4 linked regions of the Homo sapiens genome follow. The protein of the gene in region 3 interacts with the protein of the main gene of each other region in a pairwise test. Each region holds a gene or a part of one and is shown on either strand. Other genes may lie near its edges.

Region 1 (4,197 bases), on a different chromosome or scaffold from region 3:
TCCATTTGCTCACTCAGCGTACATCCCCTAAAGTTTTCTCCGCACCAGGCACTGAGGATGCAACCATGAGTTGGATGCGGCTCCTGCCCTCCAAGAGCCTTCATTTTACTTAAAATTTATTTATTTATTTTTAAATTTGAGACAGGGTTTCACTATGTTGCCCATGCTGGTCTTGAACTCCTGGGCTTGGGTGGCACTCCTGCATCAGCCTCCCAAAGTGCTGGGATTACGGGCATGAGCTACCTCACCCTGCTCAGTAGCCTTTACTCTTGCGGAGACGCAAACACCTGCCCAAGAAGCCACAGTCCAGGGTGCTCTGGCTGAGATAAAGGGAGGTTCTAGAAGCTATGAGAACCCAGGGGCTGGAGCCAGCACTTCCAGCTAAGGGTATCCAGGAAGGCTTCCTGGAAGAGGTGTCTTCTGGGTGCTTCCTGAAGGATGAGGAAGAGCTTAGTGTTGCATGCACAGGGACCAGCCTTGCAAAATCTCTGGGACAAGGCAGTCTTTTTTTTGTTGTTGTTGTTGTTTGGTTGGTTTCTTTTTTTCTCTTTTTTTTTTGAGATGGAGTTTTGCTCTTGTTGCCCAGGCTGGAGTGCAGTGGTGTTATCTTGGCTCACCACAACCTCCGCCTCCTGGGTTCAAGCGATTCTTCTGCCTCAGCCTCCTGAGTAGCTGGGATTACAGGCATGCACCACCAGGCCCGGCTAATTTTGTATTTTTAGTAGAGATGGGGTTTCACCATGTTGGCCAGGCTGGTCGCAAACTCCCAACCTCAGTTGATCTACCCGCCTCGGCCTCCCAAAGTGCTGGGATTACAGGTGTGAGCCACTGCGCCCCGTCCAGTCTGGTGCTTTTAATGAAGGACGGCATTTGGAGGGCGAGGAGGGCAGTGGAGCGAGTGAGGACTCTGTGTGTTGATGGGGAATCATGGGAGGATTCTGAGCAGGGGAATGGCAGAGGCAGGCCTGGGTTTGCTTGGGGACACGATGGGGTGCAAGGCCATCTGGTGGCTGCGTTCAGGTATTCACGACCACCGAGGGCAGGACCCGCATCGAGAAGCGGGTGGACTGCAGCAGCTTTGTGATTGAGAGTGCGCAGCGGGAAGACGAGGGCCGCTACACCATCAAGGTCACCAACCCCGTCGGCGAGGACGTGGCTTCCATCTTCCTGCAAGTTGTAGGTGAGCAGAGAAAGCCGAGGTGGCTGGGCCAAGGGGTGACTCCCTGAGGCCTCGAGGGGCCACCTGACTCTCCTGCCCCCTGCAGATGTCCCAGACCCCCCGGAGGCTGTGCGCATCACCTCGGTTGGAGAGGATTGGGCCATCCTTGTCTGGGAGCCACCAATGTACGATGGGGGGAAGCCAGTCACCGGTGAGTGCCTCTGTCCTCATGACCTCTGACCTTCCCTCTTTCTGCCTTCTGTTTTTTTTTTTTTTTTTTTTTTTGAGATGGAGTCTCACTCTATCGCCCAGGCTGGAGTGCAGTGGCTCAATCTCGGCTCACTGCAACCTCTGCCTCCTGGGTACAAGCAATTCTCCTGCCTCAGCCTCGCAAGTAACTGGGATTACAGGTGCCCACCACCACGCCCGGCTAATTTTTGTATTTTTAGTAGAGATGGGGTTTTACCATGTTGGCCAGGCTGGTTTTGAACTCCTGACCCCAAGTGATCTGCCCACTTCAGACTCCCAAAGTGCTGGGATTACAGGTGTCAGCCACGGCACCAGCCTCTGCCTTCTCCTTGACCTCCCAGAGCCCTTAGCATCCTCAGTGACCTACCTCTGACCCCTGATTTTCCATTTTCCCATCTCAATCCCTTTGGTCTTCCCGCTTCCTTTACTCGCTGGTGACCTGGGAATTCTCACTTTGACCAGTAGCCTGGGTTTTTCTATGGCTCCTGGCCTCCTGGTTCATGAGCTGTGACCCCCTCTTGATTCCTGACTCCAGGACTGGTGGCCTCTGAATGCTCTGTGGCCCCTGAGATCCACCTAAGATTCATGGCCTCGGACCGCCCTGGCCATGCGATCCTCTGGATGTGGCCCTCACTCCCCCAGCTGACTCATGCCCCATGCCCTCCCGTTCCCTCTTCTCCTCTCTGCTTGGAGCCTCCAGGGTACCTCGTAGAGCGGAAGAAGAAGGGCTCTCAGCGCTGGATGAAGCTGAACTTTGAGGTCTTCACAGAGACCACCTATGAGTCCACCAAGATGATCGAGGGCATCCTCTATGAGATGCGTGTCTTCGCCGTCAATGCTATAGGGGTCTCCCAGCCCAGCATGAACACCAAGCCTTTTATGCCTATTGGTAATGTCCTCCCTCACTTTTATGCCTATTGGTAATGATGGATCACTCTGATCCATCAACCCCGTCCACCTCTGGCCCATCTTTTGCCCGCCATCAATCTCTGACCCTACCCCCTGGCCTTCTGACCAATCATTCTACCTCTGACTCCTGCCCCTTCCTGCTGACCCCTGACCCCTCATTCCCCCCATATCCTCTTTTTCTGGATGCTTGCAGCACCCACGAGTGAACCCCTGCACCTGATAGTGGAGGATGTGACAGACACCACCACCACACTCAAGTGGAGGCCTCCGAACAGGATCGGGGCAGGTGGCATCGATGGGTACCTGGTGGAGTACTGCCTGGAAGGCTGTGAGTGACCCTGGCAGGGCTGGTGGGGGTGGTGGCTAGCACAGGTGGGTATCCAGTCCAGGGAGCTGAAAATAGGACCATGTGGGACAGAGATGGGTGCAGTGGCCTGCTTGTGTTTTGTGTCTGTACTGTTATAAGTCTCTGGGATGGGACCCCCCTGTGACTAGTGTGTTTTCTCTCCCTTCTTCCTTTCTACATCCATCCTCCATACAGCAGTGACTTTCTGTCATTCCATCTATCCTTCCATCCCCCCATTTATCTTTTATCTTTTACCTTTATGCCTTCTTTCTTTCTTCTACTCATTTATCCATCTAACCAATCTTTCCTTCATCCATCTTAACATCCACCCATCCATCCATCTGTCCATCCATCTGTCCACCCATCTGTACATCCATCCATCCATATTTCCATCCATCCATCCATCCATTCATCTTACCGTCCATCCATCCATCCATCCATCCATCCATCCATCCATCCATCATTTCCATCCATCCATCCACCCACCCACCCACTCATATTTCCATCTATCCATCCATCCATCCATCCATTTATCCATCCATCCACCCATCCATATTTCCATCTATTCATCCATCCATCCATCCATCCATCCATCCATCCCTCCATTTGTCCATCTGTCCACCTGTCCATCATCCATCCATCCATCCATCCATCTGTCCATCCATCCATCCGTCTGTCCATCCATCTGTCCATCCATCCATCTGTCCATCCATCTATCCATCCATCCATCCATCCATCCATCTGTCCATATTTCCTTCGTTTCTCTCTCTCTCTTTTTTTTTTTTTTTGAGACAGAGTCTTGCTCTGTTGCCCAGGCTAGAGTGCAGTGGCACGATTGGCTCACTGCAAGCTCCACCTTCCAGGTTCACGCCATTCTCCTGCCTCAGCCTCCCAAGTAGCTGGGACTACAGATGCCTGCAACCATGCCCAGCTAATTTTTTTTTTTTGTATTTTTAGTAGAGACAGGGTTTCACTGTGTTAGCCAGGATGGTCTTGATCTTCTGACCTCGTGATCCACCTGCCTCGGCCTCCCAAAGTGCTGGGATTACAGGCATGAGCCATCGCACCCGGCCCAGTATCATTTTTTCATCCATATATCTATCTCTTCACCACTATCTTTGCTTCCTTCCCTCTTTCTACCTATATGGCCATCCAACCATCTGTCCACCTAACCAGCCATTGTCTCTCTGCCTGTCCATCCATCATCTGTACCTCCATACATCCACTCTCCATCCTCCACCAAACAAACATTCACTGAGCACTGACTTGTGCCCGGCCCAGTGCCATGGCTATGGAGATGTCTCAGACGCAGCCATCTCTCTGGGAGAACAGACGTGATCACCTCGACACACTATCCCAGGTCTTAAAGTCAGACAGATGCGGGTTCCAACCTTGCCCCTCCACTGTCTAACTGTGTGTCCTTGGGCAAGTCTCTGAGCCTCAGTCTCTTCATCTAACCATGGCGAAGACAGTTCTCATCTTGACAGGGTACAGTGACGATGTACTCGAGAATGCATGGAAAGGAGGGATGGTT
Region 2 (4,197 bases), on a different chromosome or scaffold from region 3:
TGGGCCTCAAGTGCATGTGTCCTGGGAGCCTGCTGAGCCTCCCTCCATGTTCTGTTCCTATCCCTTCCCTCCACCACTGTGTGGAAATGAGGAGCACACCCTGGGTCCAGTCCGCCCCGTTGACCCCTCCACCTTGAGTTTTAATGTGTAGGGGGAATGTGCTGTGCCTATGCTTTACCTCCAGAACGTTGAGCTTGATGATACCATCTCCATCCTTGTCAAATGCATGAAAAGCTCCTGTGAAAGAATGCACAGGCCAGAGGCCAGTTACAGGCGCACTCCGCCTCTACTACTGTAACTTCCCCTCAGAGGACCATGTGCCCAGTGCTGTCCCTCATCAGCACAAAGATGTGCAGGCAGAGAATCACCAGTAACCCTCCCTTTGCCATCCCATTCTGGGCCTAAAGAGGTCATTGGCCCTTGTTCAGCCTGGATGGAGCAGACTGGAGATTATCAGGTGAGATGCCTGTTGCCACAACTGCCCCTGCAAGAGAGCAGAGGGCAGCCCCCCTCTCCCACTTACTGAACATGCCCTCCAGCCTAACGAAGCAGCAGATGAAACTGTCAAAGTCGATGTTCATGTGTTTGTCTGCGTACCGCATGGTAATGATGTCATAGAGCTGGTTGTTGAGGTGGAATCCTGTGGAGGGGACCATGTTAGAGGTGGACGTGGAGCTGGAGGCCTTGGGCCTGCCTTCTATTTTCCCTGCCTCTCGGCCACTCTGTGACCTGGGAAGGGAAAGTGAGAAGCCCTTTCCCTCTCCTTTCTCTAGTGGGGCCCTAGTAGCCTAGTCCCCTCCCATTCCTGCTCCCACCGTCTCGGGTCCACATCCCTGCCACCCCTTCCTTCTCAGCACCTGCGTCGTTGACTGCATTTCGCATCTCGTAGCTGTTGATGGTGCCGGACTGGTCTGTGTCATAGTGTTTGAAAATTTTCTGGCAATAGAAAATTTGAGGATGGAGGTCACACACTGAATCTCCAAATCAACCCCATTCTTGACTCCCACGCTTCATTTTCTCTTCCCACCTGCCAGGCCTTAATCTTGTTCCAGAGGTGGTGGAACTCCTGCAGGTTGAGCTTTCCAGAGCCATCTGTCTGGAGGAGGGAGGTCAGGGCTACACAGCACACAGCAAAATCCCCCTGGATTTGGAGGGAGGGTCTAGGAGACTCCGGGCTGTCCTACCCACTGCCCTGTTGTACTATTTAACCCTCCCCTCCACTCCACCACCAGTCAGAGATTGCGCCTACTCTGTAACCCAGGAGCCGCTCTCCTAAGGACCACTTTTGCTTGGGCAGGATCCCAGGCCTGAGAGAAGCACAGGGGTTAGGGCAGTTACAACCCAACATCCTCCCCTTCCGCCTCTAACAACCCCTTTCAGACGAGTATCCAAGATGTTCTGAATCAGGGTCTCCTTAAGTTTCCCTGGGCACAAATTAGGGCCCTTTGCCTGACTGGGCACCCTGTATGTTGCCTTGGCCCCCGTGGGCTGATGACAGAGGGTCGGGAAGGGGCGGCAGGAAGGATACATCCATGAGCGCAATCATGCTACGGCAGGACTCCAGTGTGAACCCGTGTGTCTTCAGGTCCTTGTCTGGGGGGATGGAGAAGAGTGAGGAGCTGCTTTGAGACAACGGGACTCCCCACCCACCCCACCCCCATTTGGTTTGAGCAACTCACGTTTGTTCACGACTGTGTTAAGGACCTTCTTGAGCTCATCTGCACAGATCTCCATGTCCTGAGGAGGAAGGGAGAGGAGGGTCATGGTTCAGGAGTACAGCAGCTCCTGGCGCGGACACTTTGCAAAACAAATTCCACCTGGCTGTGTTTGTAAAATCCCTGTCGGTGCTATTATGTCATGGGAAGCTGGGGCTTTTCTGAGGAAGACAGGGGGCCAGATACTGCACCTCAGCTATCAGGACCACCGTGGGCAGCTCAGAGCAAAAAGGCCTCTGAGCCCCCCAGCAGACGTGGCAGTCCAAAACTCAAGGGCTTGTGGATTTGTGTGCTACGCACACATCCCCTGGCTCCACCAAAGTCCAAAGTGACCTCTACCAAACAATAATGAAATAATTGGTAATCTGAGCAGTTAATCCAGGAGAGAAGGAAGCACCTGTGGGCGTCCTGGGCTTGGAGGTACTCACATCTCCTGCTATCTGCTTGAAAATGTTCCGGAATTGTTGCTGTTCCTCACTTTCCTGATCAGAGCTGCCAGGCTGTGGCTGTGGAGGCACAAAGGAAAACTGGTTCACAGGGGTCAGAGGTGCACAGGCCTGTGAGGCAAGCTCCTCTGGGCCAAGGGAGCCAAGTGCCTAAAACGGCCGGAGGTGGCAGCAGGAGCTGGGGACGGGCAAATGCAGACCTGGTGAGCTGGAGTGAGATGCATCGAGGCCTCAGGGACTCTTCACACCTCTCCAGCCCTGACGCCCCCAGCCAAAGGAGATATGGCGGCCATACAGCCTCCTCCCCGCCACCCCAGTCCCCACCTGCAAGAGCCCCCTCCACCATCCCAGGCCTGACCATTCCAACTAAAGGTGCCCGCAGGTCAAAGAAGGTCTGACCGTTCTGATTCCTCCAGCCACCCTGTCATCAAGGCCAAGTCCTCAGAGAACCTCCCCTAGGCCCCACTGCATGAGGCCCCAGATAGAAGAGGGGCTCCCAGACAGAAGAGGGGCCCTGGATAGAAGAGGGGCCCCCGGATAGAAGAGGGGCCCTGGATTGGTCTGGAGACTTTTGCCTCTAAGGCTCACCTCCACTAAGCTCCCACTCCAATCTAACACCCTCCCGTGAGCTCTAGAGGACCCCATTTCTGAAGTCAGCCCCACTTTTCTGCTCCTATCCTTTATCCCCCTATTGTGAAATGCTCAAGGCCACCAGGAGACAAGAGTTGCGCCTCCGCTCTCAAGCTGGTTCTGTCTCAGCCTTTGCCTCCCCTTCTCTGTATCCTGGCTGGATCAGCTCCATGGGAGGCTCAGCCTGCCAGTCCACTCCTAGAATGGAACCCCCATCCTGGGATATTCACCCAAGCAGCAGCCCAAATTTCAGGGGAACTTGCTGAAAGAAAAGGTCAGTGGGACAAATTCAAACCTCCAGATGTTCAAGACAAACTCCTGGGAAGCCTCCAGCCCCTGTGTATCCCAAGCGCATAGGAAGCCCCTGTAGCGTGCTGGCCACCCCACCCATGCCACATGCCCAGACACCTGTGGGGACTGCTTTTGCTTATCAGGGCTTGTTTTGCCTTTGCCCTCCTCTGACTCCTGGTCCACACCCAGCTCCTTGTTGCTGTTTGCTCTGTCCGAAACGAAGATGATGGGCTGGAGAGAGGAGGGAGGAGGCAGGAAGGAAGGGAGGATTACAGTCTGAACAGGCACACTGAGGCAGCACCTCTCTTGGAGCAGCTTTATCCAGTGAGAAGAGGAAAGGAATAGGCGGGAGCTCTTCAACCTCGGTTCAAGCTCTATCTCTGCCACTGACAAGCCGTGTGACTTCAGTTCTTTATCTTTTCATACCCACTCCATCCCTCCTCATGGTAGAGTATTGAGAGCTCAGCACGTGAAATGCTAAGAATGCTAAAAGCAGCATGATCTAGTGCAGTGATTGTCAAGTATTTTGTAGACTTTTTTTTTTCCAGATGGAAACACTGTTCAAATTAAATTTCCTGCAGAAACATGGTGTATATAAAAACACAAGCTTCTCTGATTAATGAGAACAGAGCTCTTTGCCCTCAGCACCCCACATCACCATGGCAGCTACTGAGGCACCTCAAAGGAACCTCTACAACCCTGCAAAGTATAGATTGAAAAAGGACACGGATTAGTGGCATGGTCAGTGGGTGAGCCATCAGAACACTGGGCTGGAATCCCAGCCCTGCCCCTCATATAAGAAATATCCTCTCTGGCCGGGCACGGTGGCTCACGCCTGTAATCCCAGCACTTTAGGAGGCCGAAGCAGGCAGATCACAAGGTCAGGAGATCAAGACCATCCTGGCTAACTGGGTGAAACCCCATCTCTACTAAAGATACAAAAAAATTAGCTGGGTGTGGTGGTGGGTGCCTGTAGTCCCAGCTACTTGGGAGGCTGAGGCAGGAAAATGGTGTGAACATGGGAGGTGGAGCTTGCAGTGAGCCAAGATCAAGCCACTGCACTCCAGGCTGGGTGACAGAGTGAGACTGTCTCAAAAAAAACCAAAAATATCCTC
Region 3 (4,197 bases):
TGTGATGCTGAGTCTGGAGAGAACAGTTCCGCTTCTTCAGTGTCTTCATCTGACAAAATAGTGTGCTCAGATGGTGATGTTAAACATATTGGAGAATCGCACTCAAATTCTCTTTTCTCTGCTTCCTGGGTTGCATACGGTGGAAATGAGAATTCTGACACAAATGCAGAATCTGGAGAAAAAGGTCCAATGTCTTCTTGATCTTCTTCTGATAAATTCATGGGTGAGGATGCACCTTTTAGATTTAGAGATCTATGGACAATTTCTTCCTCCTGTGCCTCCGGTGTTGCATATGGTGGTACTGAAAATTCAGAAGCAGATGTAGAAGAGGGTGTGTATCGTTCCAACTCGACTGCCTCTTCGTCTGATAGAACAACATATTCAGATGGGGTGGCTGAAAGTGGTGGGGCCTGGCATTCAGAAGTCATCTCGGTTGTGTGTGGTGGGAAAGAGTGTTCAGATGCAACAACCAAATCTGGGGAAGATGGTCCAATGACCTCCTTGCCGTCTACTGACAGAACTGTGTGCTCAGAAATACCTTTTGGTTTGAATTGGGATGCCTCATTGATTATTTTCTTTTGAGATTCCTGTGTTGCATTGAGTGGGGCTGCATATTTGGAGATCAACTTTGAATCCGGTGTGAAACGTTCACTTCCTAGGTCCTCTCCTTCTGATGGGACCACGTGTTCTGATGTGGCAGTAGAAGGCAGTGGTGACTGGCATTCAGAAGTCTTTTCGGTTGTGGATGGTGAGAGAGAGGGCTCAGAAGCAGGGGCCACAGCTGGAGTAAACGATCCAGTGTCTTCCTTCTCTTCTGATGGAATCATGTACTCAGAAACACCTTTCAATATTAACGGGGACTTACGGTCAATTGTTTTCTTCAGTGACTCTTTTGTTGCCAGTGATGGAACTGAATATTCAGAAGCAGATGTGGAGTCTGGTGTGTAACACCCACTTTCTGAGGCCTCGTCTCCTGATAGGACCATGTATTCTGGTGTAACTGTTGAAAACAGTGGAGACTGGTTCTCTGAAGTCTTCTCAGTTGTGGATGGTGAGAGAGAGCTCTCAGATGTAGGGGCTGCAGCTGGGGAATAAGCCTCAAATTCCTCATTCTCTTCTTCTGACAAAACTGCATGTTCAGCTATAGCTTCTACATTGGATGGGGGAACTGGCTCACCTTCTTGCTCCTGTAATTCATGGTTCAAATCCTGTGGTACTGAATACTCTGATACAAAAGCAGAACCAGTAGAAACAGATGCAATTTCCTCTCTTTCTTCCTCAGACAAAGCAACATGTTCAGGAGATGATGCTGCCAATAATGGTAGAATAAGCTCTTCTTCTTTGTGCTCCACTTCAGGGGACATATGTGGTGGGAAGGGCTTCTCGGAAACCAATGGGCTTTCTGGGTAATCAAGTTCTACGATCTCTTCTTCTACTAAATTAGAATCTTCAGGTTCAGGGGTAATAGCTATGGGTAGGGAAGTTTCTATTTCTTCTTTCTCTGGTTCTTCTAACATTAGAGGTTCAGAAAGAGAAATGGATGGCTCAAGCATGTTTTCCTCCTTCTCTCCTTTGACACTGGGATGGGTAGGGGTCAGTTTTGCGGAGACTGGTTCTGCCCTTTCTATTGAAGTCAGGTCCGGCTGTTCTTGGTCTGGGTCCAAACCATCCTGGGTAGATGCTGCCAGACCTGGTGACGCTGCCTCCAGAGAAATGGAATGGTGAGCAGAATACACATCTTCCTTCTTTACCTCATTAGCAAATGATGGTGAGACTGAAGAGTCATTCTCTGAAGCTGCAGTTCCTGGTGAAGCAAGCTCACATTCTTCCTTTGTTGTTCTCAGGAACATAGTTGCAGGTGTGTCGGGTGTCACAGATGGAGGTTCCACTTCATGTGGTTTTGCTTCATCTTCTGGCTGTTGTGGCACTGACTGTGAATGCCTGAGCTGTATTCCTTGTTCTGCTCTGCCACTACTTGAATAAGAGGGAACTGTGTGCTCCAATGCAGATGTGGCATTTAGGGGAGAATCAGCATAAATTTTCTTTTGATCTTCATGACTGAACATTAAGGTTAGGGACTCTGATCCTTTGGAGAGTGCGCCTCTCCAGGGTGGAAAAACCTCTTTTACTTTATCCTCTATGCTTTGGGCTACTAATTTGCGTGTTTTGGACACTGTATTAGAACCACTATTGTCCAAATCTGGCTCTAGACTAATGGATGCATCTTTCCCTTTCCTATAATGTATTTCTTTAATTACATAACCCTTTGGCAATGTTCCATAAAATTGTAGAGGAATTAATTCTTCTTTAACCGAATTAAACATCTTAATTTTATATTGTACTGTTCCTATGTAGACTGGTCTTAACACTAATGGCTTGTGTTCTTTGTATATTGCCCCAGTAATCGGAGGTGTATTTGAAGTGGTCTTCTTTTTTCTTGCTTTATCATAAATGCCAGTATATGACTTCTCTTTCTCCGTGGTTAGTACCTGGCTTGCTGAAGTTAAAGGACTGCCTTTTTTGTTTGTTGGAACATCTTGGGATTCAAAAGAATTTCTTTTTCTGTTGCCTTTCCGGCGTAATGATGGTGAACCATGCTTTGACTTATGAGTCCTTTTCCGAACCTTTTTCACTTCATCCACAATAAAGGAAACATTTCCAGGAGGAGAATTCACAGTTGACCCTTCCCGACTACACACACCAGAAGTCTGACTTTCTTCTGAAGCCCAAGGAGTAGAAGATCTACTTGAATTGGTTTCCCAGGTTATCCCACTATCTTCCCTTTGGACTGTCACCATGGAAAAGGAGGGGTCAGATATGATATACTCCTGCTTGATCTTTCCCTCTTCATCCTGGTCTGATAACCTATAGCAAATAACAATATTAATTATATATTATCATAATAAAATAATACTAATTAATAGAATAAGTAAATACATTTTTACCAGGTAAAGGATTAATGTGAAATTAAAATACAGACATCAATATTGCCTTCCATGTCAAAAAGAGGGATGTATATCAAATAAAGTTTAAAAACCAAAGTCAGGATACCCAATACAATGACACATCCCAGGCTGGAATGACTCACTATTCCACAAACTCAAAAAAGCTAAAGTTAAATTTACCACCTTCTCTCATCAGGATTGCCTTCCTGATCTTGTCGGGACTCAGCAGTCACTCAAGCCCACTCTAGTCACCAGCATCTTCATAATAACTCTTGTATCTGTGCTCTCTCTGTTACCACGATCGCCACCTCACCCAGCTTTTCACCACTTCCCTCCTAGTCACTGCCATTAACTTCCTAACTGGTCAGCTGGTATCACAGGTACCTCATTTTCCCCCACTCTTAACCCACTGTGCCGCATCCTCCCAGACTGGCTTTACTAACCAGCTCAGTATGCCACCCCCTGCTTTAAAATCTCAGCAAATTCTTCATATCCACAGAAGAAAAAAAAAAAAAAGATGTTCAAAATCCTTAGCTCTCTAATCCCTATCTGACATTCTTTCCAAGTGTGTACCTGCACCCTACCCCTACAGGTAAATTCCTGTTTTAACAATAATTCACTGTTCGGCAAATAGATCTTGGGAACTCTGAGTCATGATAAAGAGAAAACAGGTCATTGAATAGAGAGAGGTCACAAAAAATGTCAACCTACTGTGCTTCACTTTCCTCATCTATAAAACAGGGATAATAATAGAACCTATCTCGTGAGCTTGTTGAGAAGATTAAATTAGTTAACTCATGCGAAATGCTTAGGGAATATTCCTGGCATGTAGTTAGTGCTCACTCAATAAATGTTATCTGTAGTCAGGCCTTCCTGATGACACATGATGAAAGGCGCCTGGGCATGATCACTTGCAGCTGCTACAGGATACAGAAGTGTGGAAAGGCTGTGTCCGTGGACTGGTCTCTCATCCCTTCCGAGATGGCTGGCTTTGGCCGCTCCTTCATTTGCTATTGGGCCCCCATCTTAGACTCTGTAGCGCTCTTCTCTGAAATTGTCTTCTACCTCTTCCTCACTTGTACTTACGCTGTTCCTCCATTTAGAATGCAGAGCCCCGACAATACTCCACTTCTGCAACTGTAAATTCTACCTACTCCTTAAGGCTGGGTTTAAATTCCTCTGCGGTTATCATTCCTGACCAATGCAGCAGCCGCGTTTGCCATCACTTCATAAACATATTTCCTCCTAGGAA
Region 4 (4,197 bases), on a different chromosome or scaffold from region 3:
CTAAAGTGATGCAAAGTATAGACTCTGGTGGGAGAGGGGGCGTCTTAAATTTTCACGTTTGCTTGGCCTCTGGGGGCCTCTTAACAGCACTTTAAAGGAAATAAATAGATGAAGAAGAGAACAAATTATTTTGAAATACAGTTATTAAAATACTGTATTGAACCAAATTGGTGATAGTCCCATTTATTAGCTTAGTAACCGGATTGAGCTGTGGCTCTGGTAATTCATTTGGGAGTAGTGACGAGATTTTTTGTGACACTCTAATGCTTTGGAAAATACCTGTTGCTGTTCCTGCTAAAACTCCAGGGCTTATTGTCTGCCTTTGTAATTGAAGGAGTGCTACATTTCAGCTAGAAGTTTTTGCCTTTTATCATTCATGTTCACAAATACCAAGTTGATTTACTCTCAGCCTATCCATTTGTAGGAATATATGGTGTCCTTTCTTTACTTCCTCAAATGATTATATTGATGACAAAAGAGACAAGGAAATAAAAACGGCACAGATAGGGGAACCCAAAGCCTAACAGTGTGTGTCCTTGGAGGTGAGGGTGAAGGAAGTGGCTGCAGGCCCTGGGAAGTACCATCTTGCATCCGTGTGCAGCACTGAGTGGATACCTCATGGTTCTGTCTTGTGTACACTGTTCAGGAGGACATGTAGAGTGGACATATCACATAGAAGAAGGTCAGTCTGGAAACTGTTAGGAGAAGCACTCAAGGGCTGAGAGGCATGGTCCTTGGTGGAAAGAGCCAGCAGGCCTGGTGCTGGCGGTGCCCTGCTCGTGACAGTGTGCAAAGTCTGGAGCCTGGCCTGTTCCCGCCCTTGGCAGATGGTAGCTCCTTGTTTTGGATTATTAGCCCCTGCCGGTTTAGTTACTGTTTCTGGAAGATTCACATAGAAGGCAGTGTGGTAATTCAGTCAACGTGTTGTCTGGCATGTGGTATAAAACTCCTGTTTAAAGCTCTGATTCTGAGGCCATGCCTCAGGGACTTGAGAAGGGGACAGAGCAGCTTATTTTATTTTATTATTTATTTTATTTAATTTTAATTTTATTTTATTTTGAGATAGGGTCTCACTTTTTCACCCAGGCTGGAGTGCAGTGGCACGATCTCGGCCCACTGCAGCCGGGAGCTTCTGGGCTCAAGTAATCTTCCCGCCACAGCCCCCAAAGTAGCTGGGATTACAGGCACGTGTCATCACACCCAGCTAATTGTACTGTTTGCCGTCTGCGATTGACGCTGGAATGATTGGCTGTTTTAGTCGGGTTCTCAGGGTGGCAGGGAGCAGGCTGACTTCAAGTTGGGTGGGTGGTGAGATAGGTGGTTCAGGATCATGCAGGGATAAAGAAAACAGGAGTCTATGGGATTCTTGGGACCACTGTATTGTTGCTGGGCCTCTGGGCAGATGGAACCATGGTTTGTGCTCTGGCAGGATCCAGTTCTGCACCAGGGCTCTTGGCCTTCCGCTTCAATTAGGTGGTTGCCCTCCACTGTCTGTTCCATCTGTACGCTCCCCTCACAGTGGGGGCTCACCCAGCCTTACCTGCCCTGTACTCTCCCTTTTCCAGCACCCACCTCAGAGAGAGTGCCTGTGCTCTTTCCCCTCACACCACCTACCAGGCGCTGACCTTCGGGCTGGGGGCTGGCCTTGGGTGTTGCAGGGCTACCTGGCCCAGGGAGTGGTGCTTGGGGAGGAATGAGCTTCTGACACCTGCACAAGGAAGGCCCCCTTTGAGCAGGGCCTGCCAGTGGGGTTGGGTCACTCAAAGGGGCTGTGGATTGGTAGGTACTATGATCACAGTTTCCAGAACATAATGCCTGAGTGAGCGCATGTGTTTTGTTACATGTTCTCTCAGACATTTTATGAAGGTTTGTACATTTTTTTGCATTAAAAATGTTAGGAATTTAACTTGACAAGAAAAAGGAGCATAAGGCCGGGTGCAGTGGTTCACGCCTGTAATCCCAGCACTTTGGGAGGCCAAGGTGGGTGGATCACCTGAGGTCGGGAATTCGAGTCCAGCCTGAACAACATGGAGAAACCCTGTCTCTACTAAAAATACAAAAAATTAGCCGGGTGTGGTGGTGCATGCCTGTAATCCCAGCTACTTGGGAGGCTGAGGCAGGAGAATCACTTGAACCCAGGAGGTGGAGGTTATGGTGAGCTGAGATCGCGCCATTGCACTCCAGCCTGGGCAACAAGAGCGAAACTCCATCTCAAAAAAAAAAAAAAAAGTTTAATAAACATTAAATTGCTAAACTTTACGTTCTTCTAAATTTAGTTACGTATTTGAGCATACTTTTTTTTCCCCCACGAAACAGGGGCTTGCTCTGTTGCCCAGGCTGGAGTGCAGTGGTGCAATCTTGGCTCCCTGCAACCTCTGCCTCCCGGGTTCAGGCAATTCTCCTGCCTCAGCCTACTGAGTAGCTGGGATTACAGGTGCCCACCACCACGCCTGGCTAATTTTTGTATTTTTAGTAGAGATGGAGTTTTACCATGTTGGCCAGGCTGGTCTCGAACTCCTGACCTCAGATGAGCTGCCCACTGTTGCCTTTCAAAGTTCCAGGATTACAGGCATGAACCACTGTGGCTGGCCTTTTTTTTCCAATTTTTTGTTATGGTAAAATACACGTAACAAAATTTACCATCTTAACCATTTTCAGTGTGCAGTTCAGTGGTGGTAAGTTCATTCATACTTTTGTACAGCCATCACCACCATCTGTCTCCAGAACCCTTCATCTTGTAAAACTGAAACTCTATACCCATTAAACACTGCCTCCCCATCTCCCCTCCCTGAAGCCCCTGGCAACCACCATTCTACTTCCTGTCTCTGAATTTCGCTACTATAGGGACTTCATACCAGTGGAATTAGGTAGTATTTGTCTTTTTGTGACCAGCTTAGCTCATTTACCATAATGTCCTTAAGGTTCATCTATGTTGTAGTGTGTGTCAGAATTTCCTTCCTTTTTAAGGCTGAATACTCCATTGTGTGGATATACTGAATTTTGTTTATCCATCCCTCAACAGACACTTGAGTTCCTTCTACCTTTTGACTATTTTGAATAATAAAACTGTGAACCTGAGTGTGTAAATACTTCTCCGAGATCCTACTTTCAATTTTTTTGGATATAGATCTAGAAGTGGGATTGCTGGATCATACTGGAATTCTGTTTTTAATTTTTTAGGGAACCTCCATCCGATTTTTCGCAGCAACTGTACTGTTTTATATTCCTTTTAATTTAATTTATTTTTTATTTTTCCAAGGACTCAATAAGGAGAGAGTATCAGTTTACATTCCTACCAACAGTACAGAGGTTCCAGTTTCTCCGTATCTTACCCAACACTTATTTTCTTATGTGTTGTTGCTTTTTTTAATAGCAGCCATCCTAATGGATTTGAGGTGGCATCTTACTGTCATTTTGATTTGTATTTCCCTAATAATTAGTGATGTGGAGCATCTTTTCACATGTTCATCGGCCATTTACATGTCTTTGGAGAAATATCTCTTCAAGTCCTTTGCCCCTTTTTGAATTGGGTTTCTTACATGCATACGTGTGTGCGTGTGTGTGCGTGTGTGTGTGTGTGTGTGTGTGTGTTTTAAAGAGACAGGGTCTCATGATGTTGTCCAGGCTGGTCTCCAACTCCTGGGCTCAAGTAATCCAGTAATACTCCTGCCTCAGCCTCCCAAGGAGCTGGGACTTAAAGACATGGGCCCCTGTGCCTGGCTATGTTCATACGTTTTTACATATTTTTTAAGCTATATTGTGTTATGCTTTTAGTTGGCATTTTAGTGATTTTTAAAACATTTATATAATCCACACATTTCTCGTTTTAAAAATTTAAGGTCTCATACACTTTTGTGAGTCCAGTTTTTTTCTTTTTCTTTTTTTTTGAGACAGAGTTTTGCTCTTGTTGCTCAGGCTGGAGTGCGATGGCATGATCTTGGCTCACCACAACCTCCACCTCCTGGGTTCAAGCAATTCTCCTGCCTCAGCCTCCCAAGTAGCTGGGATTACAGGCATGTGCCACCCCGCCTGGCTAATTTTGTATTTTCAGTAGAGACAGGGTCTCTCCATGTTGTTCAGGCTGGTCTCGAACTCCCGACCTTAGGTGATCTGTCTGCCTTGGCCTCCCAAAGTGCTGGGATTATAGGCGTGAGCCACCATGCCCGGCCAGTTCCAGTTTTTTGTATTATTTTACGG

The links.
Region 1: the proteins of CMYA5 (region 3) and MYBPC2 interact in a two-hybrid assay, tested with the Homo sapiens proteins (one large-scale study listed by BioGRID and IntAct).
Region 2: the proteins of CMYA5 (region 3) and CAPN3 interact in a two-hybrid assay, tested with the Homo sapiens proteins (one large-scale study listed by BioGRID and IntAct).
Region 4: the proteins of CMYA5 (region 3) and PKNOX1 interact in a two-hybrid assay, tested with the Homo sapiens proteins (one large-scale study listed by BioGRID and IntAct).

Annotation. Positions count from the first base shown.
Region 1 is NC_000019.10:50,453,000-50,457,196, forward strand, and holds part of MYBPC2 (myosin-binding protein C, fast-type), read left to right. Parts: intron 1-1,020; coding exon 1,021-1,180; intron 1,181-1,265; coding exon 1,266-1,370; intron 1,371-2,108; coding exon 2,109-2,297; intron 2,298-2,510; coding exon 2,511-2,645; intron 2,646-4,197. UniProt on the Homo sapiens protein: Thick filament-associated protein located in the crossbridge region of vertebrate striated muscle a bands. In vitro it binds MHC, F-actin and native thin filaments, and modifies the activity of actin-activated myosin ATPase.
Region 2 is NC_000015.10:42,407,327-42,411,523, reverse strand, and holds part of CAPN3 (calpain-3), read right to left. Parts: intron 3,314-4,197; coding exon 3,200-3,313; intron 2,222-3,199; coding exon 2,144-2,221; intron 1,738-2,143; coding exon 1,680-1,737; intron 1,594-1,679; coding exon 1,529-1,593; intron 1,097-1,528; coding exon 1,028-1,096; intron 937-1,027; coding exon 858-936; intron 641-857; coding exon 524-640; intron 238-523; coding exon 179-237; intron 1-178. UniProt on the Homo sapiens protein: Calcium-regulated non-lysosomal thiol-protease. Proteolytically cleaves CTBP1 at 'His-409'. Mediates, with UTP25, the proteasome-independent degradation of p53/TP53.
Region 3 is NC_000005.10:79,727,583-79,731,779, reverse strand, and holds part of CMYA5 (cardiomyopathy-associated protein 5), read right to left. Parts: intron 2,866-4,197; coding exon 1-2,865. UniProt on the Homo sapiens protein: May serve as an anchoring protein that mediates the subcellular compartmentation of protein kinase A (PKA) via binding to PRKAR2A. May function as a repressor of calcineurin-mediated transcriptional activity.
Region 4 is NC_000021.9:42,980,519-42,984,715, forward strand, and holds part of PKNOX1 (homeobox protein PKNOX1), read left to right. Parts: intron 1-4,197. UniProt on the Homo sapiens protein: Activates transcription in the presence of PBX1A and HOXA1.